3 linked regions of the Homo sapiens genome follow. The protein of the gene in region 2 purifies or fractionates together with the protein of the main gene of each other region. This does not show direct contact. Each region holds a gene or a part of one and is shown on either strand. Other genes may lie near its edges.

Region 1 (7,106 bases), on a different chromosome or scaffold from region 2:
GCTGGAGCCTCCCCTTGCTCAGGGAAACCCTCCCCTCAGAGCCCTTCTGTGCCCTGGACAGTTCTGTTCACCAGTGACTGGGAAAGGGCTGAGAGAGGAGGGGGGTTTGGGTTCTGATCTGTTAGTGCTGAGGGAAGGGCTGGATCAGCCTGCAGCTCCTGGGCTCACCAGGACAGGAGGAGAAAGTGGCCCCCACAGAGGTCCCTACCCTGCTTCTGAGACACTGAGGTCAGAGTTGGGGCTCAGGGTGATGCCCAGAACAAGAGACAGATGCTGGAGGTAGGGGCCCCAGTATAGCTCAAAGGCCTTAGGCTGCTCTGACAAGCCTTCTCCCTGGGACAGGGAGCATCAAGGGACCTGAGGACTGCCTGGTGACTTCCCGTAGCTCCTCTCCCTCTTACCCTGACCATGGCCTTCCTGTTCCTGGCTTTGAGGTTCTGGTTATTGTAGAGCAAAGAGTAGATGGAGACCTGGGGACCAGGGCCTGATTTGGCTGCTCACAGTCTGGGCTGGGTGGAGGTTGCTAGGAATGCAGAAGTTAGCAGCAAATCATGAGCAGTGGGTGCAGAGTAGTTGCCCCAAAATCCCCCCACCCTGCATTTCCCAACGCCACTTCCTCTCAGTCAGGAAATGGAGAGATTTGCTATTGTCCCTGGAGCAAGAGAAGATTGTAGCGGCTCTGAGAATCCCGTGCCTTCCTCTTTAAGCCCAAAGCTCCCTCTGCCCCCAAGATCAGGCTGTTCCTCGTCCTCTGTGGAAGGAGCAGAACTAGACTACAGTGACCATCGCCCCCCAGCCTGGGCAGGAGCATATGATGCTTGTGACAGGGACTCCTACCAGTCCCCCCTACCAATAGATCAGACATGGGTGGGAGGTGGTTAGAGTGGCAAGGTTGACAAAAGGACCCTGACAGTGTGGCGGGCAGTGGGGAGCTCCTGGAGAGCCCTCTCTGGAGCTTTCAGGAAGGGTCCCTGGCCCTGCAGCCTCCCTGCACATGCATCACAGTCCTGTGTGCTCTCTTCCCCTCTCACACAGGGTGCCCACACTGTAAGAAGGTCATTCCGCACTTTACTGCTACTGCTGATGCCTTCAAAGATGACCGAAAGGTAAGGACAGCGCTCTTCATCTCTTGATCTGCCTGCAGCTAATTCCTACACCTTCCTTCTTGTCATTCAGGTCCTTCCCCAAACAGGGGCAGGTCTGCTAAGACCTGTAAGCAGGAAATTCCTTGGGAACCAGGACATTCTCTTTAGAAGGAAGATAGGGCAGGCTGGATTTATGCTGCAAAATCAACTAAAAGGGATATGCTGAACCATTCCAGCACTTACTTGGAGGAGAGGGATGGTTAAAGGGGTCATCTATTTACTTTTTTAGTGTTTGAACCTTTTTACTGTAGGATTGTCATCATGCATTACTTATATAATTAAAAATACAAATTTAAAAATCCAACAAAAGTCAACTGGAGGATGCCATGGTGGAGGAGAGCAAGGCCATGTCAGTGGAGCCTCGCCCTGCCTAAGTGAAAGGCTCCTGCAGCTGCCGACTGATGAAGCATAAAATTAACAAGCTAGAGCTGCAGATTGGATTAGAGTGCAGGGCCTCCAGGCGCGTCCCCCAGGCACATCCCCCAGGCAGCTGGTGCAGTGGGGGCTTCTGCTGGGAGAGGGCTTGTGGGGCAGGGAAATACCCCTGAATTCGGGGAAGTGTGATTGACTGCCAGCCTTTGAGTTCCCTTCTCATCCATGCCAGGCGGAGCACTGGTGCAGAGGACTGCAAACATTCCTCCCAGCCCTGAGACTCAGTCATGGGAACCTCTGGCCTAACAGGCCCTAGAAGCTGGCAGTCACGTGGGATCTGCATTCACACACACCCAAACCCAGAGTCACGTGCAGGGGTGCCTTACTTTCCTGGGTGGAATCCCAGGTGGGGCCAGGGCAGGCTGGAAGGAACCAAGGCCAGGCATAAGCTGAGCATAGAGTCCTAGATGATAAACAGGCCAAGCAGGCCTAGACGGAAGTTCAGCCGAGGCAGGAAAGGGGAGCAGGTATTAGTGGAGCAGCCCTCACAAGCAGAGACAGATGACCATCCCAGGGCCGGGTGGGCAGGGTTTGAAGTTTTGATCAAGGCCAACAGGAGGTCAGGCCTAAAGGTACCATCCAGACCTTGTGGGAGCAGAGATACAGGTGCTAGGATCACCTTAACAGGCCCAGAGACAGTGGCAGAGATGGGGTAATGAGAACTTTACAGGGACATAAAGCCAAAGGAAGCCAGGCTGGGGACAGGCCCATGCAGGCAGAGTGGGGATGAACTGGGAACCTGATTCTCACTTAGACCCAGAGCCCAGGACTCTCTCTGGAGTCAGGAGGTCCCATTGTTACCCGAAAGCCCTGGCTGCGGCTTTGAGGCACCCCTCACCCCCACCAGAAGGGAGTACAAGGACCAGAAGCGTTTTCTCCTCTGCCTGCCCCTTTCCCTGCACTGAGTGGGGTATGGCAGCAGGGGCTTCCTTCCCGTGTCCATGTCCCTCATTGTTCCCACCCACTTGTGCACAGCACAGGGTAGTTGCTCCTGCTTGGTGGTCCCACGATATCCAGCATGGCCTGGGCTGCCAGTCCACAGGACCGGAATAGCTGCCACTCTGTATTGACGTCCATCACGTGCCACCCAGAATGCTGGGTGCTCTGGGCAGCAGGAGAAAGGCTGAGGTGTGCCATCTCCCTGTCCCACTGGACACTCAGGTCTCCATAGGCCCCAGGAGATCTGTGAGGGTCCTGAGGCATGACTGGCAGACAGATCCTGGGCTTGCCCTCCCAGCCATGCTGGGGAGCATGGTGTCAGGGAGCGTGGTCCAGCTGAGGCACCGAGGGGGCTGGGGAAACCCTGAAGGGGCAGCCCCATTGACGTGGCCCCTTTCTGCCCACTAGACCGCCGCTGAGGCTGTCCTGTGGCCTGACCCACATCAGTGCAGGTGAGGCCAGACTTGCCAGGCCTCCAGCGGGCAGCTGAGAGCCCACGTCTTCTCTTCCCATTCCCCCTGCACTGCTACATGGGGGCCCATTTCCTTGATGCTCCCCTCCGCTTAGACACTGACACACCTTTGCTTGATTGTCTTGGGCCAGTGGTGTTGTGGCCTTTTCCTGGGTTCAGTCCTCCTGTCTCTTATTCCCTCTGTCTCTCCTTTCAGCTTCCTTTATTCCAAGCCAGGGATCACCCTCACTTGCATTCAGGAATGCACTTCATAACCTCTCTGTCTGAGGCAGGTGGCCTGCCTGGGTTTCCTGGAGGTTATATTCATGACATCAGGGAAGCCAGCCATCTGGCCTGGGGGGCTGAACTTACTGGTGCCCACTCTGTGCTCCAGGCATGGCACTGTGACTACTGGGTCCCATCCTACAACTATCAGATCAGAGTCTCTGGGGGATGGTGCTGGAAATTTGTGGTTTTTAAGAGCTGGCTCTTGTGCTGGCCACAGGCTGGTGTGTGGGGACTGTTGGCCTGTCCCCTCTCCCTTTACTCGTGAGGGATCCAGGCCCAGAGAGGAGCTGTGTCCCTTGTTCAGGAATGCCCAGCGGGTCACTGACAGCCAGAACTGGGTCTCCTGACACCCCAAGCTGCCACTTCTTAGCTGGAATTGTGGGGTTTTTCCACCCAGAAGCCAGCCCCTGTTCCTATCCCAATCAATATGCAGTTGGTTGTTCACTTCCATTTTCATAGCCAAAGTCAATATTAGCTCCTGCAGAGATTTATTTTACTGAATCAATAAAGCTGTGTGTGGCAGCTCATATTTTAGCAGGGGAGCCTCCACCCCCTCCCGGGAGCTTACTTGGGGACTTTATCGGTTGGCACACTGGTGGGGAAAGGAATGCAAAGTGTTAGTGTTGGAACAGATGGTGTTATTGAAGGGGCAAGGCAGACAGGACCTGTGGTGGGCTGGCAAGCAGGTGGGGGGCTCACCTTTCACTGCACGTCAAGGTGTGCAGGCTGGGGGTGGTGTGGGGCCAGGTGTGAAGGTCACCCTTAGAGGGAGGCCCTGAGGCAGTGGGGGCCCCACCTCTGCCATGGGCCCACTTCACTGCTGGAATCTGGCCATGACATGTAGGTCCTCCTGTTTATGAGGCTGGCTACTGCCTTTTCCAAGTGAAAGCTCCCTCAGGACAGAGACCTCATTTGTCCTTGAACTCCCCACAGTCATGACACCTTAGACCTGTGTAAATGTTGACTAGGTGAAGGAACAATATAACATATTTGATATTTACTGCGAGCTCTTCTTCCACTGAAAGCATTTCTTACATCATGTTGTCCTTACAATAGCTTGCTCAACTAGGTATTGTTACAGTGCTCATATTGCTGAAGAGGTGATTGAATCTTAGAGAGATCATATGCTAGTTTCTCAGCTGGAGAGGGGCAGAGTGAGAATCGCAAACAGGCATTGTCAGAGTTTGAGTTCTCCCAGAAGCAGACCCTGCTCCTGGGCTCATGTGCAGGGAATTTATTTGGGAAGTGATCTCAGGAAGTTCAGAGAGGACCCTGGAAGTGAGACACGAAAGGGGAGGAACCAAAGCAGGTGTTTTATGGGCAGATGACTGGATGAGTCACCAAGGCTCAGTCCCACAGGAGACCTCACCAGGAAACGTGACACAGAGCTGTTCCACTCAAAGGCCAAAGAAGCCAGGGTCCTTGTTCTAGACCCCCATCTGTCATTGGCCTTACGTCCAGCTCCTTGAGGCTGGGAGGATGCTCTGAGGCTGAGAGTAGCAGGTGCTGTGGCAAGGGCTGGTCTGAGGGGATGTGGCAGGACACCAGCAGCGTGTGCCCCAGGATTTGTACCAACCACCATAGAACAAATTGAGAAATCGTAGGTGTTCTGTGTTGCAGGTGATCAGTGCAAATCTTGAGTTGGGTGTAAGGGGACAGGCATTTAGGTGAAATTTCAATAGCTGAGAAGAGCTTTATTCGCTGCCTTCTTTCCAAAGAGTCTAAGCTGCTGCCTTTGGGGAGGACGCATTTGTCTCTTCTTCTGTGGAAAACGCGCGTGGATTCACCTTTGCAGCTAGAAGTTGCATTCCATGTGTGCGGCTGGCAGCTAGTTTAGGTGATTCAGAACAAGTATACATTTCTAATTTAGTAGATTTATAAAACCATACACTATATTTCCAATAGCTCCAGGGCATTGTATACAAATTAAATTCATAATTTAAAGCAGATGCAGGGAGAGCAGCAGCCCAGAGCCATGTTCATCCAGCACTTTCATGGCGGAGCAGCAGCTCCTGGCCCGGGCTGGGCATGGGGCCTCAGCCTCTGGCTGCAGGGAAGGAAAGTATGTGGATGCCCGTGTCCCTGGGCAGGGCCCCATAGCACCTGCCCTGAGAAATGGAACCCCACAATTTGGCCAGGGGAGCATCTGCCTCATGTTTTTAAATAATAAAGTGCGTTAGAGGTGGGCTGCGGTTATCAGAAGTGCATAGGGGCCAGTCTGCTGGCCTGGGTGAACTGGGCTCCAGGGGGTGCTGGGGAAGGTATGTTTAGCCTACCTGAAGGACAGCTGCCTCTCTGCCCAGCCAGTTGTCACCTGTGAGACTGCAGGGTAAGTGCCATCAAGTCTTCTGACTTTTAAAGAGAAGCTGGAAAGCCAAATTGTTGTATTAAATCTTCTGGCTCCATTTCTATGTTGGAGCTAATTCAGATTTATTTTTTTTGTTGTTGTTAAATTCAATGTGGGCCAAATAGAAGAGGACTGAGAGCCAGATACAGATTGCAGGCAGCAAGTTTGTAAACTCCATTTTAAAAGTCTCACCGTATAGAATGTTACATAGCTGAAGAGTAGAAGGGAAGCGTGAGGGTGAGGGGGGTGAAGGTGGCACCTGGTGGCCAGGGGAGGCCGCACCTCACTCTTCTCTTCAGCTATCCATCTGGCAGCTCACCTGGGCATGAGGGACATGATGAGTAAACGTGGCCATGGGGGCCCACAGGATTCTCCTACCTGGAAAGGGGCTTTGTCCAAATGCAAATAACCATCAACCAAAGAACTGTGTGAATCATGGTTATTCAATAATTTTAAATTATCTTATTGAATCACCCTCTTTTAATTTCTTCCAAGCATTCATTGAGCTCTATCTAAAATGATCTAATTTGTCATACAGCAGACGCTTGATAACTGGACTTTGTCAAGGTCGACGTTGTCCCCCAGCATCTAGAACAGGCTTGGCACACGGCAGGGTTTCAGTGTGTGTTGCCTGGTAGGAGGACTCATTCTCATGGGAATCTGCCCCATCTTCCATAACACCTCTGTACTGGGTATGGCCATTGAGGACCCCTTCTCGGGCTTCCCTGGTGCATGACCCTCAACCGGAAACAAGTTCCCCATTTCTGCTTTATACTGTCTTCCTTTGAAAAAACAACAAATGATGAGGAAAAGCTACCCAGCATGTGGAATTTGCTAGATGGTCAAGAAGAGGCCAGTGGCCAATGTGGGAACCACTTTCTGACCAAACATTCTGATGGCTTTACTCATGCGGGGCTCCTCCAGTTTCCAGATGTGCTTCCCTGGTCTCCTCCTCTTCCAGTCTTGGCTCAGATGGCGAATCATACAGAGCGCCTTTGCCCCACTCACCTGGCACCTGGACCACCTCCCTCATCCCTCACATCACATCATGTTGGAATTGTCCCTTTATCCAACCCCTGCCCAGACACTGAGCCCCTAAGTGGGGACAGAGCTTGTATATGGGGTTGGAAGAAGTGACTGTAATAGCAGCTGACATTTCCTGACCATGAATCTGGTGCCAGGTTCTGTGCTCACTGGCCTCACTGGAATTCTCTTATTCAGTCTTCACAATATCCTGATAGCCTAGATACTATTATTATCCCCATTTTACAGCTGAAAAAAATGAGGCACCAAGAGGCTGAGTTATTTTCCTTAAGTCTTACTGTCCAGGCAAACCAAGAGTGCACTTGGGGAACTTGACTTGAAAGCTCTTGCCCTTAACCTTGGCACTATACTGTCCCCCCAAGCTAATGTTCCGGAAATATTAGTGGAGAAATGATTAAATCCTACAGTCCCTTACAGATAGCACCACAGAACCTGTGGTGTTTACAAATGCTTTCAAGTC
Region 2 (7,716 bases):
TAATAGTAAATATATTTTCTCTTCTTTATGATTTTCTTAGTAACACTTTCTTTTGTCTAGCTTACATTACTGTAAGAATTCAGTATATAATACATTTACAAAATACGTGGTAATCGACTATGTTCTTGGGTCTTGTGGTCAACAGTAGGCTATTAGTAATTAAGTTTTGAGCCAGGCATGGAGGCTCACACGTGTATTCCCAGCACTTTGGGAAACTGAGGTGGAAGAGTTGCTTGAGCCCAGGAGTTTGACACCAGCCTGGGCAACACAGGAAGACCCCATCTCTACAGAAAATTTAAAAAATAGCCAGGTGTGGTGGTGCACACCTGTAATGCCAGTAACTGGGAAGGCTGAGGTAGGAGGACTGCTTGAGCCCAGGAGGAGGCTGTAGTGAGCTGTGTTCCTGCCACTGCACTCCAGGCTTAGCAATAGAGTGAGACCCTGTCTCAAAAAAAAAAAAAAAAAAGGAAAAAAACTGTAGTTTTGGGGGTAGTCAAAAGTTATACATGGCTGGGTGCACACCTGTAATACTAGCGGCTTGGGAGGCTGCGGCAGGAGGATCGCTTGGGCCCAGGATTGCCAGGCTCTAGTGCACCATGACTGCCTGTGAAAAGCCACTCACTCCATTCTGGGCGACACAGCAAGACCCTGCCTCTAAAAGAAAAAAAAGTTATATGCAGACTTTTGACTGCATGGGGGTCAGTACCCCGAACTCCTGTGTTGCTCAAGGATCAACTGTATAGATATAGATATCCAAATGGTTCTGTTCCCTGGTGAAACCTGGACTAATCCAAGTATCTTACGAACAAAGTGGAGACTCAGAGAGGTTTAGTAATTTGCCCCAAATCACACAGCAGAACAGGGACTCAAAACCAGGTATGATCCAATGTATTATACAAATTGTCACACTTCTGAGTGAAAGGGTGTTATTAATAATTATCCCTGGATAACAGGCATAGACCAGAACAATCTAGGTCAAACAACAGCGCAGCACAGCTTGAACCCACTGCACTCAACTGCCTCTCTCGTCCCTCGCTCCCCTCCTCTCTCTGGCTCCTTCCTTCCACCTACAGAGATCCTCAGGCTCCACTCCCAAAACAATTGTTTCCTACCCCTGTTTCCATCTCAAGGTCCTCTCTCTCTCAGTTAAATTTCAATCTATAACATCAACATCAAAAAACCAAGGGTCTTTTCTCAGTCCTCATCTTGCAGTTCTGGCACTCTTGCTGTAACCTCAGTGGTGAACTCTCTCTTTCCTTAGATTCTTGTGCCAGTGGTCCCAAAGATCATCGGGTCAGTTGGAGAGTCCCTAGAAGGAAGATTCCAAGAACCCAGCATATAGTTCTACTCACAGCTGGGAAGGAAAAACACAGAGGGAGAATCTAGGGGAATCTATGTGCAGGTTTCCTATGCTCTCTCCCTCCCATGAGGAAGAGCACACTCTTCCCCCAGCAACAAAACTTGACAGTATGTGCCATTCTTCTGGCAGAACATTCCTCTGCTAGAGATGCCCATTAGACTCAGCACCCAAGGTTTTCACTGGGGGCTGGTCACATGGGGCACCCTCTGCCTAGCATATACAGTGTTCAATACTAACCACACCATCTGTATATACGGCCTAGGCAAGTGAGTCCACCGTTATTGGGTAGGGAAGGGTGAGAAATCCAGACACTAGACAAGTCCCACCCTTGCAAGTAGGCTTTTCTAAGGAGAGCAGGCCTGCCATGTTAATTCTTTTCTGCACGGATGCCTGGACTCTGAACCATCTGGTTCCCTCTGCTACCGGCAAAAAGGCATCCCTTAACATCCTCACATCCCAGCCATGTCTCCCTCCCTCGGTGTCCTCACTGACTCATGGTTCTAAATGGCCCCTTCACAAATGATGCCCAAACTGGCATCACTGACTAAGGGCCAGGTTTCTGATACCCCCATGCAATCCTAGTCCATATAAGGCCAATTAACTCAGGAATTAGCGAGACCAGGCCAGAGGGTTTTGAAAAACATCAGGCCTCTTCCTGCTCTACCACTAACAGGTGGCAGGCCTCAGTTTCCTTATGTGTAAAAGCAGGAGATGGGTTCCTGCCAGCTCTGAAATACTATGGTACTATGACCTCCCCCCAATGCCGTTCCCCCGCTCCACATCTAATATCAGCCCCCTGTTGGTCCTTGTCGTGCGGCTCCAGTCCCAACCAACCCAGGTGGGCAGGTGGTTGTGAGTTTTCTGGACGCCTCTAGACTATTGACGTGTGTGGGTGTGTGTGGGCGGGGGGGTCTCTATTGACGTGTGGCGGGGGGGTTGTGGGGGTCTCTAACCTCCAGTCCACCCTCTGCGCTCACTTCCAGCTTTGGCTGAGCCCCAGGGGTACATGACCTAAAAGTGGGTTTGAGGAGTCCGATGCAGAGGCCTGGGATACAGGGGCAGGAAAAGGAAGTGCAGGCAAAGACTGGCTTATCCCAGGACCTGTCTCAATTCCCACCTAACCCAGGGAGCAGGCTCTGCTTCCCTCCCTCCGTCCCCCGCCACTCCCCACTATGCGTGGGCACAGTAAACGCCTCGGCTGATGCTAACATGAAAACCAAAAAGTTCTGAGGTCTGTACGCAGATCATCAACGAAAAGGCGGCTAGAGGGGAAATCTCCCGGGGACCGAGGGAGAAGTTCAGGGTGGGGTGTGCGGGCAAAGCGGAGCGCTCCGACTGTTGAGGACTCGTCCTCACCCCTCGGCCATCCTTCGGGGCCTAGAGAGAGGAGGCCCCCCGCCGGCCCAGGGCGCCCGCCGCGGGCCGCGCGTCCCCCAGAGCTTCCTGGGCCGCCGGCGCCTCCTGGGTCCCCGCTCGGCTCGCCGCAGATCGGACGCCACCCCGGGTCCCTCGGCCCGCGACACCCCCGCCTACCTCCTCCCCGCCATAGCGGGCCAGCTCCTCCTCGGTGAAAAGCCGCACTGGGGGCCCCCGCTCGGCAGGGCGCGGTGTCTGCCCGGCCCGGGCTGTGGGCAGCCCCGGGGCCAGCGCCAGGACCAGGGCCAGCGCTGCCAGCGGCCGCAGCCGCCGCCGCGGCGCGGGGCCCACCATGGTGAGCGCGCAGCGCAAGGCAAGGCCGGGCCAGGGCGGCGGGGCCCTAGCACGCCCGCCCAGCGTCCCGGAGTCCCGCCCCGCGCCCAGAGCCTCCCCGAGGGCGGGGACCCGAGAACTCCCGCCCTTCGCGCGCCTCCTGCGCCCCGGGGTGGGGCTGGCCGGGCTACTCGGGCCACGCAGCTGGAACCTGGAAATTAGGATTGGAATCCTGAACTCCTAAATCCAAACTACAGACTGGAAGTTACCAAAAAATGTCACAGTGGTTCCTTGATCAGGTAGAAAGATGACAGAGCCCAACATACCAGAACCTAGAAAGGTATATTTCTAAAATAAGACCCCAACTGTCTTAATTCGCTTTTATTTTTGGCTGATTTTTTTTCTTCCTGGTTGTGTTTAAGTTTCTGGTTCCCAAGGAGATTTTTGCAAAGGGTAGGGTGCTGTTACCGATACGCCCTGAAATAATAATAGCTAACATTTGTGCCAAACTTTGCTCATTACTTTATGCAACAAATATTTTTGAGTACCTCCATGTACCAGGTCACTGGGGACTCACCACTGAACAAGACAGATCCACGCCCACGTGAAGCTTACATTGTGTGGGCAGATAGACAATAAGATGCTAAGTAGTATGTTAGATGGTGGTAAATACTAGGGAGAAAAAGTAGGGCAAAGAGATAGGGAGCACTGGGATGGACATTTTATTTTATTTTATTGTTATGTATTTATTTATTTTTGAGACGGAGTCTGTCGCCTACGCTGGAGTGCAGTGGCGCCATCTCGGCCCACTGCAACCTCCACCTTCCGGGTTCAAGTGATTCTCCTGCCTCAGCCACCAGAGTAGTTGGGATTACAGGCACCCACCACCACGCCTGGCTAATTTTTTTTTTTTTTAATTTTTAGTCGAGATGAGGTTTCACTATATGCTGGCCAGGCTGGTCTCGAACTCCTGGCCTCAAGTGAACCATCCACCTCATCCACCCAAAGTGCTGGGATTACAGGTGTGAGGAACGGTGCCCGGTTATGGGGATGGTCATTTTAAATAGGCAGGTTAGGGAAGGCCTCACTGAGAACAGGGTATTTGCATAAAAATCTACAGGAGGCGAAGGAGGCGGTCTAGAGGGAAGAGCACTTTGGTCAAAGGATCAGGTGCATAAATGCGGAGGAATGAGGATGCCCGGCTTGCTGGAGGATCAAGGGAAGGTAAGAGGGGTAGGTGAAGTCAGGAAGGAAGCGGGTAAGGGAGTGGGGGTGGATCTTGGGGGCTTCACAGGTTATTTTCAAGACTGGCTTTTACTTTCAAGACTGGAATAGAGGAATTAACAGAAAAAGGGTCTCATTCCAGACCCAAGAGCAGGTTCTTAGACGTCCACGGCAAAGAATCAGGGCAAGTCGCAGAGCATAGTAGTTAAAATAGTTCATTAGAAACTACTCCATTTCTAATAATAGTACTACTGTGTTTCTGAGTAGTATCCTTGCTTTGAAGTAGTACTAAGCAAGTATTGTTTATATAGGAGCACCTCTGCCTTCAATGTAATGCTTGCTTTTATAGGGCTAAAACTAGCGTACTTCATTACAAAAGCCTATGATCAGCTTGTTACAGACTATTAGTATTGTTATTCTCTTGTGTAACTATTGACTTCAGGGAGAATTTATGGGTGTACTGTTATCTTTAAAGTGAAACTCATTTTTAAACTAAGAATGCCTTTTTCCATTATCTCATTTCCTCAACCATAAACATCTTGTGAAGAGTGCCTATCTTCCTGGGAAAGTCGCCCAGCAGGTTTGGCTTTATCTGACCTTTATTCAAGATGGAATCACTCTGGTTAGGACACTTCTGACATAATTCCCTCCTCCTTTTTACAAGGAGACCTTTAATCCTAAGGGGTGCAGGGGGACAGAGATCCATCTTCAGTAACTTCAAGCTGAACAGAAGCGATGATATTCCTGCCTAACCATTAGGATCCCTTTGCCCAAAGTAGAGAGCTAGCCAGTCAGAAAGCATCTGTATAGTGAGGACCAATCATACATAATTCTAAGTCCCAGAAAAAGGTGAAATCTAGAAAATTAACGTGTTAAATTTAAAGAAGCATTGAATAAGCTTAACTCTTATTCCTACATAAAAAGTACAATGCAGTATATTCCACAGCACAAAACAGAATGAATAGAATTATCCCAAGCATGCTAAACAAAAAAAGTTTCCCAAGGACTAGGCAGTTGTTAGAACCAAGCTGATATGGGGTCAACTGACAGCGTGTCAATGGCAGAGATGTGGGTGTCTAAGTCTTTTGTGGCCTGAGTAACATTATGTGAATAGTCTGGAATGTATGCATAACATTCTGTTTTGATTATAGCATAAGTTCCCCCTTTGAGCTGCTGTTAACATGTCCAGAGCCATAGTTTCATAAGGCTATCTGTCTAATTTGAGATGTTTCTTCAGTCAAGAGGGTAAGGGCATGGCGTGTATTATTGAAAACTGCAGCTGTGTTTAGCTATGGCTTTGGCTTGAAGCTCAATGTCAATTGTGGCTGCCTGTGGGGAGAAGACAGTGTCAGGCCTCTGAGCTGAAGCTCAGCCATTGTAACCCTTGTGACCTGCACCTATAAGTCCAGATGGCCTGCAGGAGCCAAGAAGTCTGGAGCAGCCAAAAAAACACAAAAGAAGTGCAACAAAAGAAGCTCCTGCCTTGACTGATTGACCAGCCTTACGACGTTCCACCATTATGAATTGTTCCTGTCCTGCCCCAACTGATCAATCGACCTTGTGACATTCTTCTTCTGGACAATGAATCTTATGATCTCCCCACCATGGACCCTGTGACCCCCTCCTCTGCTGACAATAGATAACCACCTCTAACTGTAACATTCCACTGCCTACCTCAGTCCTATAAAGCTGCCCCTCTCCTATCTACCTTCGCTGACTCTCTTTTCGTACTCAGCCCACTTGCACCCAAGTGAATAAACAGCCCTGTTGCTCACACAAAGCCTGTTTAGGTGGTCTTCTATACGGACACATGTGACAGATAGCCAATGGGTAAAACAACCAAGAAGACTGCTTTTGTCACTTATGACGAGCTTTTACAGTTTCCCAGTTAGATGGGAGAGATTATAATTTAGTGAGGATACATCCTGGGAGATGAAGATGACCCTATGTACATCTTCCAGTCCAATTATAAGGCACATATGGCCAGCCATGTGACCCACATGCCCATAATCAACCCCAAGGAGAAGTACAAGCACCTAGCCATAAAGACTCATTTTGCCATCCCATCCACGTTTGGCTAGTTACAAGAAGGGTGCAATTATAGTGTTGGGGTAGTAACCATTCCATGTTACAGGTTTCAGTGTAGTAATCACTGCTATTGTCTTTCAAAGCATAGGGGCACTCTGCCTAATACCTGAACTTAGACAGCTGTCATCCATTCATCGTGTACAGTATAACCTTACGTCAGAGTGGAGTTTAATTTTCTGATCAAACAAAAAAGAGGCTTCTTTGTTTCACGGTGGGAAGGGAAAGGGCTGGGCCCTGTGTTTCTGTAGTAGAAGGGAAAAAGGGTGGTCCATTTACCCCAATCATAATAATTTCCCCATATGCTCATAGTGGCTGGCAGGATGTGCCAGGGCAGCCTGAGGTGGAGGAGGCATTAGTTCCGTGCATACTCAGCAATTAGTGTTGTTGTGTAGGGAGGCTAAAGTCTGTGCCCATTTGGCAAAGAGATTGCTTCTTAGCTGGTTCCAATACATGCGCAGAATTAAGATGTTAATCCAAATCTTTAAGTTATTCATCCTTCTTGTTTCTTCTGAGCAGGCGCCAGAGATCAGTGGTTGGTACACAGGGATAAGTGAGATCAGTCTCAGCCTGTGGGACTTCATAAGAAATGGGTTTAATTCGAGATAAATGAACCCAGCTGCTTATTCCTTGAAGTTTAATTGCAGTTTGGGTACTAAGGAGTACTTGGTAGAGTACTTTGTACAAGTACTTTGGGGAAGGTTGATCTAACGGAGACCCTTCCTTCCAAGTTTTTAATAGAACCCAGTTTCCTGGCTGGATTGTAGCATTTTCTTCCTTAGTGGAGGGAGGAAGTCTCTGATTTCCATATTCAAGAAGAGCTTTTTGCACCCGACCTAAGTTAATAACGTAGTTCTGTAATTTGAAAGTATCTATATCTACTAGGAAATCTGCAGTTAAGAAAGGACTTCCATACATTATTTCGAAAGAGCTGAGCTGCAAGTTTCCCTTAGGGGCAGCCAAAACTAGCAACAAGGCCACAGGCAATAGAGACGAATAGGTTTCTGATGTTTCCTGGCATAACTTGGCAAGAGTCCTCTTTGAAGTTTGGCCCTTTCTACTTTTCCTGCAAACTGTGGCCTCCATGCTGAATAAAGATGATACTGAATTCCTAGAGCCGGTGATATATTTTGGGTTCTTGTTGCTGTGAAAAATGAGCCATTCTGTAAGCTTTTAGGCAGCCCAAACTTAGGGATTATTTCCTTTAATAAAAATTTAGAAATGTCAGTTGCCTTTTCAGACCAGGTAGGAAAAGCTTCAATCCAACAAGTAAAGGTATCGATGAATACTAATAAATATTTGAATCCTTCCCATGGGGGTATTTGAGTGTAGTCTATTTGCCAATCTTCACCTGGGTG
Region 3 (7,106 bases), on a different chromosome or scaffold from region 2:
TGCAAGCTCCGCCTCCCGAGTTCAGCCATTCTCCTGCTTCAGCCTCCCAAGTAGCTGGGACTACAGGCGCCTGCCACCATGCCCAGCTAATTTTTTTTGTATTTTTAGTAAAGATGGGGTTTCACCATGTTAACCAGGATGGTCTCCATCTCCTGACCTCATGATCCGCCCGCCTCAGCCTCCCAAAGTGCTGGGATTACAGGCGTGAGCCACCACGCCCGGCCAATGGCTGAGATTTTCAAAAAGCTTAAAAAGAGGCCAGGCACCATGGCTCACGCCTGTAATCCCAGCACTTTGGGAGGCCAAGGTGGGCGGATCACAAGGTCAGGAGATCGAGACCACCCTGGCTAACACCGTGAAACCCCATCTCTACTAAAAATACAAAAAATTCGCCGGGTGTTGTGGTGCACACCTATAATCCCAGCTACTCTGGAGGCTGAGGTGGGAGAATCGCTTGAACCTGGGAGGCGGAGGTTGCAGTGAGCTGAGATTGCGCCACTGCACTCCAGCCTGGGCAAGAGAGTGAGACTTCATCTCAAAAAAAAAAAAAAAAAGAATGCCCATATTGGCCCATGCAAGCCCCTGCTGCTCCCCCATGTGTGAGGGCAGCACAGATCTTGTGTCATTCCCCTATGAAAGGTGGTCACATAGCACGGGGAGGCTGGTGCTGTGATCCTCACTTCAGAGATGAGGAAGCTGAGGTCCAATCACGGAAGAGGTTGCATGAGGTTCCTCAGCTGGTAAGTGGCAGAGCTGGAGTTTGGATCAAGGTCCCTGGGGCAGTAATGCCTGTGCTTTTGTGTTTACAAAGGTTCAGGGAGATGGCAGAAAACATGACACAGTCCCTGGACCCACAGGGTGCTTGGTTTGCTGCAGGTCAGCATAAAGAGGGCTGTGACAGAGGAAGTACAAGTTACTGGGGGGACCGGGTAAAGAGGGTAAAGGGTGTTCCAGGCAGAGGGCACAGCACGTGCAAAGTCCAGGAGGCAGGAAGCAGCACCATGCATTTGAGGAACTGAAAGAAGAGCAGTTGGGGCCGGGTGCAGTGGCTCATGCCTGTAATCCCAACACTTTGGGGGGCTGAGGCAGGTGGATCACACAGTCAGGAGTTCGAGACCAGCCTGGCTAACATCGTGAAACCCCATCTCTACTAAAAATACAAAAAAATTAGCCAGGCATGGTGGCAGGCGCCTGTAATCACAGCTACTCAGGAGGCTGAGGCAGGAGAATCGCTTGAACCCATGAGACGGAGGTTGCAGTGAGCCGAGACTGCACCACTGCACTCCAGACTGGGCAACAGAGCGAGACTCCGTCTCAGAAAAAAAAAAAAAAAAATGTGCTGTGGGTGAAGAGGGCAGAGGCTTCAGCAGAGCCTGGAGAGGAGAAGCCAGATCCCGAGGGGCCTGGAAGGCTGGCATGAGGAGCATGGGTTTTATCACAGGGCATTTCAGGCTTGCGGGAGGCAACTGAGCAGAGAGGCACTTAAATATTACTGTGGAGAACTCTGTCTGGCTGCTGTGTGGAATATGGATTGGAGAGGGCAGGACTGGGTCCAGGAGCCCAGGGAGGACCCAGGAAAGGGACCAGGAAGGAGACGTAGGCCTGGATCAGGCCAGGAGATAAAGTTGCAAAATGGTTACAAGGTGTAATAGGCCACGCTCGGTAGCTCATGCCTGTAATCCCAGCACTTTGGGAGGCCATGCCAGGCAGATTACTTGAGTCCAGGAGTTCGAGACCAGCCTGGCCAACATGCAAAACCCCATCTCTTTTTTTAATTTTTTTATTGTGTCTTTTTGGGTTTTTTGGTTTTTTATGTTTATTGTTGTTGTTGTTGTTTGTTTTGTTTTGTTTTGTTTTGTTTGAGACGGAGTTTCGCTCTTGTTGCCCAGGCTGGCGTGCAATGGCACAATCTCAGCTGACTGCAATCTCTACCTCCTGGGTTCAAGCGATTCTTCTGCCTCAGCCTCCCAAGTAGCTGGGATTACAGGCATGCACCACCATGCCTGGCTAATTTTGTATTTTTAGTAGAGGCGGGGTTTCCCTGTGTTGGTCAGGCTGGTCTTGGACTTCCAACTTCAGGTGATCCACCTGCCTTGGCCTCCCAAAGTGCTGGGATTACAGGCGTGAGCCATCGCGCCCAGCACCAGGTAACTCTTATTTCTGTGCCAGGTAGTAGCCTAAACTTTTTGTTAATTTAATTTAATTTAATTTAATTTAATTTATTTATTTATTTTTGAGACAGAGTCTTGTTCTGTAGCCCAGGCTGGAGTGCAGTGGTACAATCATAGCTCACTACAGCCTCAGCCACCTGAGTAGCTGAGACTACAGGTTGCGCCAGCACACCTGGCTAGATTTTTTTTATTTTTTTTGCAGAGACGGGGTTTCACTATGTTGCCCAGTCTGGTCTCAAACTCCTGGCCTCAAACAATCTTCCTGTCTTGGCCTCCCAAAGCACTGGGATTATAATAGGCATCAGCCCAGGAATTTGAGGTTACAGTGAGCTATGATTGGCGCCCCTGCACTCCAGCCTGGGCAACAGAGCAAGACCCTGTCTCTAAATATATATATATATATATATATATATATGTTGCTATTACAGTATACCCAAATGTTAACATCCTTTGCCAATGTTTAAAACAAAGGAAGAAATATGTTAGTTGTGAACTTTAAAATGTGTGTGTATGTGTGTGTGTGTTGAAGAGAAACAAAATTATCCAAAATTATTTTGGGAAGGAACATACTAAGACAATATTAAAAATCTTTAATGACCACTAAAGGAGGGCTGGGCTTCCCAGCAGTAAGGCTGGGCAGCAGGGGCTGGGACCAATCCCAGCACTGGTCAGTCTGTAGGCAACCCATGTCCCCCTCAGAACCTCAGTTTCTTCCAGGACCATGGATGGGAGACAGAGACCAGTGCAATGCCTGCATTAACCCTTTAGTTGTTAGAGGGTAGGGAAGTTGCTGGCTGGGTACAGTGGCTTACGCCTGTAATCCTAGCACTTTGGGAGGCCAAGGTGGGTGGATCACCTGAGGTTAGGAGTTCAAGACCAGCCTGGCCAACATGGTAAAACCCTATCTCTACTAGAAACACAAAAATTAGTTGGATGTGGTGGCATGCGCCTGTAGTCCCAGCTACTCGGGAGGCTGAGGCAAAAGAATCGCTTGAACTTGGGAGGCGGAGGTTGCAGTGAGCTGAGATCATGCCACTGTGCTCCAGCCTGGGCAACAGAGGGAGACTCTATCTCAAAAAAAATAATAATGATAGCCAGGTGTGGTGGCACGTGCCTGAACCCGGGAGGCGGAGGTTGCAGTGAGCCGAGATTGTGCCACTGCACTCTAGCCTGGGTTACAGAGTGAGATTCCGTCTCAAAAAATAATAATAATAATAAATAGAAGGTAAGGAATTTACAGGGTGTGGTGCTTGGAGGCTTCAGTTCAGATTATTTATGAATTATCATGAAGGTATGGTCTTTTTTTTTTTTTTTTTTTTTTTTTTTTTTTTTTTTGAGATAGAGTCTCGCTTTGTCATCCAGGCTGGAGTGCACTGGTGCAATCTCTGCTCACTGCAACCTCCGCCTGTCGGGTCAAGTGATTCTTTTGCCTCAGCTTCCCAAGTACTTGGGATTACAGGTATGTGCCACCATGCCTGGCTAATTTTGTATTTTTAGTGGCAATGGGGTTTCATCATGTTGTCCAGGCTGGTCTCAAACTCCTGACCTCAGGTGATCTGCCCGCCTCAGCCTCCCAAAGTGTTGAGATTACAGGCGTGAGCCACCATGCCTGGCCAAGGTATGGTCTATTTTAATAATCAGCCCAATACTAAGCATCAACTGTAGGTATGCCAGCAAAAATGTTTGAAGGCCACGGCGCAGTGGCTCATGGGGAGGCTGAGGCAGGCAGATCACCTGAGCCCAGGAGTTCAAGACCAGCCTGGGCAACATGGCAAAACCCCTTCTCTACAAAAGATTGCAAAATTAGCTGGGTGTGGTGGTGCACACTGTGGTCCCAGCTACTTGGGGTGCTGAGATGGGAGGATCAGTTGAACCCCGGAGGTTGAGGCTGCAGTGAGCTGTGACTGCACCATTGCACAGCAGCCTGGGCAAGTGAGCAAGACCCTGTCTCAAAAACAAAACAAACAAAAAGAAAAAACCAAAAATGTTTGAAGACCACTTCCCCAGAACAGAGGAGGGGATGGATTTGAGAGTTCATGGTGGCTTCTAGGACCCAGCTCCTGGAGCCCAAGAGTGCCAGCCCACTGACCAGGCTCTCTGCTCCTCTTTGCCCACAGGTTACGAAGTGACAGTGCTGGTGCGGGACTCCTCCAGGCTGCCATCAGAGGGGCCCCGGCCGGCCCACGTGGTAGTGGGAGATGTTCTGCAGGCAGCCGATGTGGACAAGACCGTGGCTGGGCAGGACGCTGTCATCGTGCTGCTGGGCACCCGCAATGACCTCAGTACTGAGCCCCCCCTCTGCCCACGGCCCTCCCCTACACCTCGGCCCCCAGCGCCACCCCCGCCCCCGGCCCCGCCCCTGCCACCCCTGCCGCCGCCGCCGCCCACCAGTGACAGCCACTCTCTGTCCCCTCTAAGGTCCCACGACAGTGATGTCCGAGGGCGCCCGGAACATTGTGGCAGCCATGAAGGCTCATGGTGTGGACAAGGTCGTGGCCTGCACCTCGGGTGGGTGGTGGGATCATGGAGGTGGGGCTGAACTGGGGGGTACTGGGGAGGCAGCCCAGGGGCCTCTGAAAGGTGACGCTGAAGCCATTCCATGTTACTGTGCATTTACTGAACACCAGCTGTGTGCCTGAACCTTACTGGGTGATGCTGGGGACACAGTGGTGACCTGTACAGCCCTGGGCCCTGCTCACACAAGGCTCACAGAGAGAGGTGGTAAACAGATCCATGATCAAACTGACATCCAGATCATCGGAGCTGGGATCGGGAGGCAGGCAGAGGGGATAGGGCCACAATGGGAGAAACTACAGGACTATGGGAGCCCAGAGGAGGCGTCCGACTTAGGCTGAGAGAGGTCAGGGTAGGCCTCCCAGAGGAAGTGATAGAGCTGTGGATAGACACTAGGTCTCTGCCCTCACAGAGCTCCCGATTATGGGGACACAGACATTAAGCAAATAGTTGCCCTGTATAATCATTTATTTATTTATTTATTTATTTATAGTTATTTTGAGGTTTGTTTGAGATAGAGTCTTGCTCTGATGCCCAGGCTGGAGTGCAGTGGCGTGATCTTGGCTCCCTGCAACCTCCGCCTCCCGGAGGTGGTTCTCCTGCCTCAAGTGATTCTCCTGCCTCTGCCTCCCAGGTAGCTGGGACTACAGGTGTGCACCACCATGCCCAGCTAATTTTTGTATTTTTAGTAGAGACAGGGTTTCGCCATGTTGGCCAGGCTAGTCTCGAACTCCTGACCTCAAGTGTGTTTCATGACACAAATTGCCTCCCTGGAAAGGGAAGTGGCATGAGGGAGGGCTGCCTGATGATTGTAATTACACTCCAGGCAGAGGACAAAGCAAGCAAAGAGGCCTGGAGGCCAGACCTAGTTGGAGGGTAGGAAGCAAAATCATTTATGGCTTTTTTCCTCAAGCTCTGAAATGGAAAAGTAATACACGAGTAAACTTGCGATTTCAGAATGGTTCACTTTTTTTTTTTTTTTTTGAGACTTTCTGTCACCCAGGCTGGAGTGCAGTGGTGCAACCATGGCTCACTGCAGCCTCAGTCTGGGTTCAAGTGATCCTCCCCACTGCAGCCTCCCAAGCGGCTGGGACTACAGGCATGCACCACCACACCTGGCTAATTTTTTGATATTTTTGTAGAGACAAGGTCTTACTTTTGTTCGCAGATTGGAATGGTCTGCTGTTAATTTTAGTTTTGTTTTTTTCTCCCATGTCTTTTTTTCTTTGAGATGAAGTCTGACTCCATTGCCCAGGCTGGAGTGCAGTGGCGTGGTATCAGCTCACTGCAACCGCCACTCCACCTCCCGGGTTCATGGTGCCTGGGACCAAGATCGTGGCCCACAGTGATTCTCCTGCCCCAGCCTCCTGAGTAGCTGGGATTACCGGCGCCTGCCACCATGCCCTGCTAATTTTTGTATTTTTGGTAGAGACAAGGTTTTGCCATGTTGGCCAGGCTGATGTTGAACTCCTGGCCTCAAGCAGTCCTCCCACCTCAGCCTTCCAAAGTGCTGAGATTACAGGTATAAGCCACCACGTCCAGACTCTCCCATGTCTTAAAAACCAATTTAACTGGTTAAGTTTTGCTTCCATGAAAAAGACAAACCTGTAAAATTGATTTAATTTGCTTTCTTTTTTCTCATTTTTTTTTGTTTAGATTGTTTTCTAAATATTAAAGTCTTAGGTGTGCCAGGATTTTTTTTTTCATTAAAAAAAAAACAAACATAGAGACAAGGTCTCGCTCTGTCACCCAGGCTGGAGTGCAGTGGCCTGATCATAGCTCATTGTACCCTTGAACCCCTGGGCTCAAGGAATCCCCTCACTTTAGCCCCTCAAATAGCTGGGGCAACAGGTATGAGCCATTGAGTCCAGCTTAACTTTTTATCTGGAAATGATCTTAAACTTACAGAAAAATTGAAAGGACACCAGTACACCTACCGTCCTCTGTTCACAGACACACAATGTTTTTTTTCTGACCCATTTGAAGTTAGCTTACATACATCATGGCTGCTTACTTCAATGTGTAGGTCCTCAATATACTTTTTAACTTTTTATTATAAAAATTTTTAAACAGAAAAGTTAATAGTCGTGTGAACAACCATATTCCTTTTCTTTTTTTATTTTTAAGTTTGTAGCTATCTATCTATTTATTTATTTATTTTGAGACCGGGTTATAAGGCTGGCTAATTTTTGTATTTTTGGTAGAGATAGAGTTTCGCCATGTTGCCCAGGCTGGTCCCGAACTCCCGGACTCAAGCGATCCACCAGCCTCAGCCTCCCAAAGTGCTGGGATTACACCTGAGCCACTGCACCTGGCCAACAGCCATATTCCTGATTTTAAAATTGTGATTGTGTTTTGTAATTGGTTTATCTATGCACATACACATACACAAATAGATTTTGTTTTTGTTCTCCTAAACTA

The links.
Region 1: the proteins of NENF (region 2) and PDIA5 purify together in Homo sapiens (affinity purification with mass spectrometry; 3 studies listed by BioGRID and IntAct, with this or other methods). This does not show direct contact.
Region 3: the proteins of NENF (region 2) and BLVRB purify together in Homo sapiens (affinity purification with mass spectrometry; 3 studies listed by BioGRID and IntAct, with this or other methods). This does not show direct contact.

The regions. Positions count from the first base shown.
Region 1 is NC_000003.12:123,153,936-123,161,041, forward strand, and holds part of PDIA5 (protein disulfide-isomerase A5 precursor), read left to right. Parts: intron 1-1,035; coding exon 1,036-1,106; intron 1,107-7,106.
Region 2 is NC_000001.11:212,428,298-212,436,013, reverse strand, and holds the start of NENF (neudesin precursor), read right to left. Parts: upstream 3,095-7,716; 5' UTR 3,071-3,094; coding exon 2,894-3,070; intron 1-2,893. UniProt on the Homo sapiens protein: Acts as a neurotrophic factor in postnatal mature neurons enhancing neuronal survival. Promotes cell proliferation and neurogenesis in undifferentiated neural progenitor cells at the embryonic stage and inhibits differentiation of astrocytes.
Region 3 is NC_000019.10:40,455,728-40,462,833, reverse strand, and holds part of BLVRB (flavin reductase (NADPH)), read left to right. Parts: intron 1-4,288; coding exon 4,289-4,453; intron 4,454-4,589; coding exon 4,590-4,679; intron 4,680-7,106. UniProt on the Homo sapiens protein: Enzyme that can both act as a NAD(P)H-dependent reductase and a S-nitroso-CoA-dependent nitrosyltransferase. Promotes fetal heme degradation during development.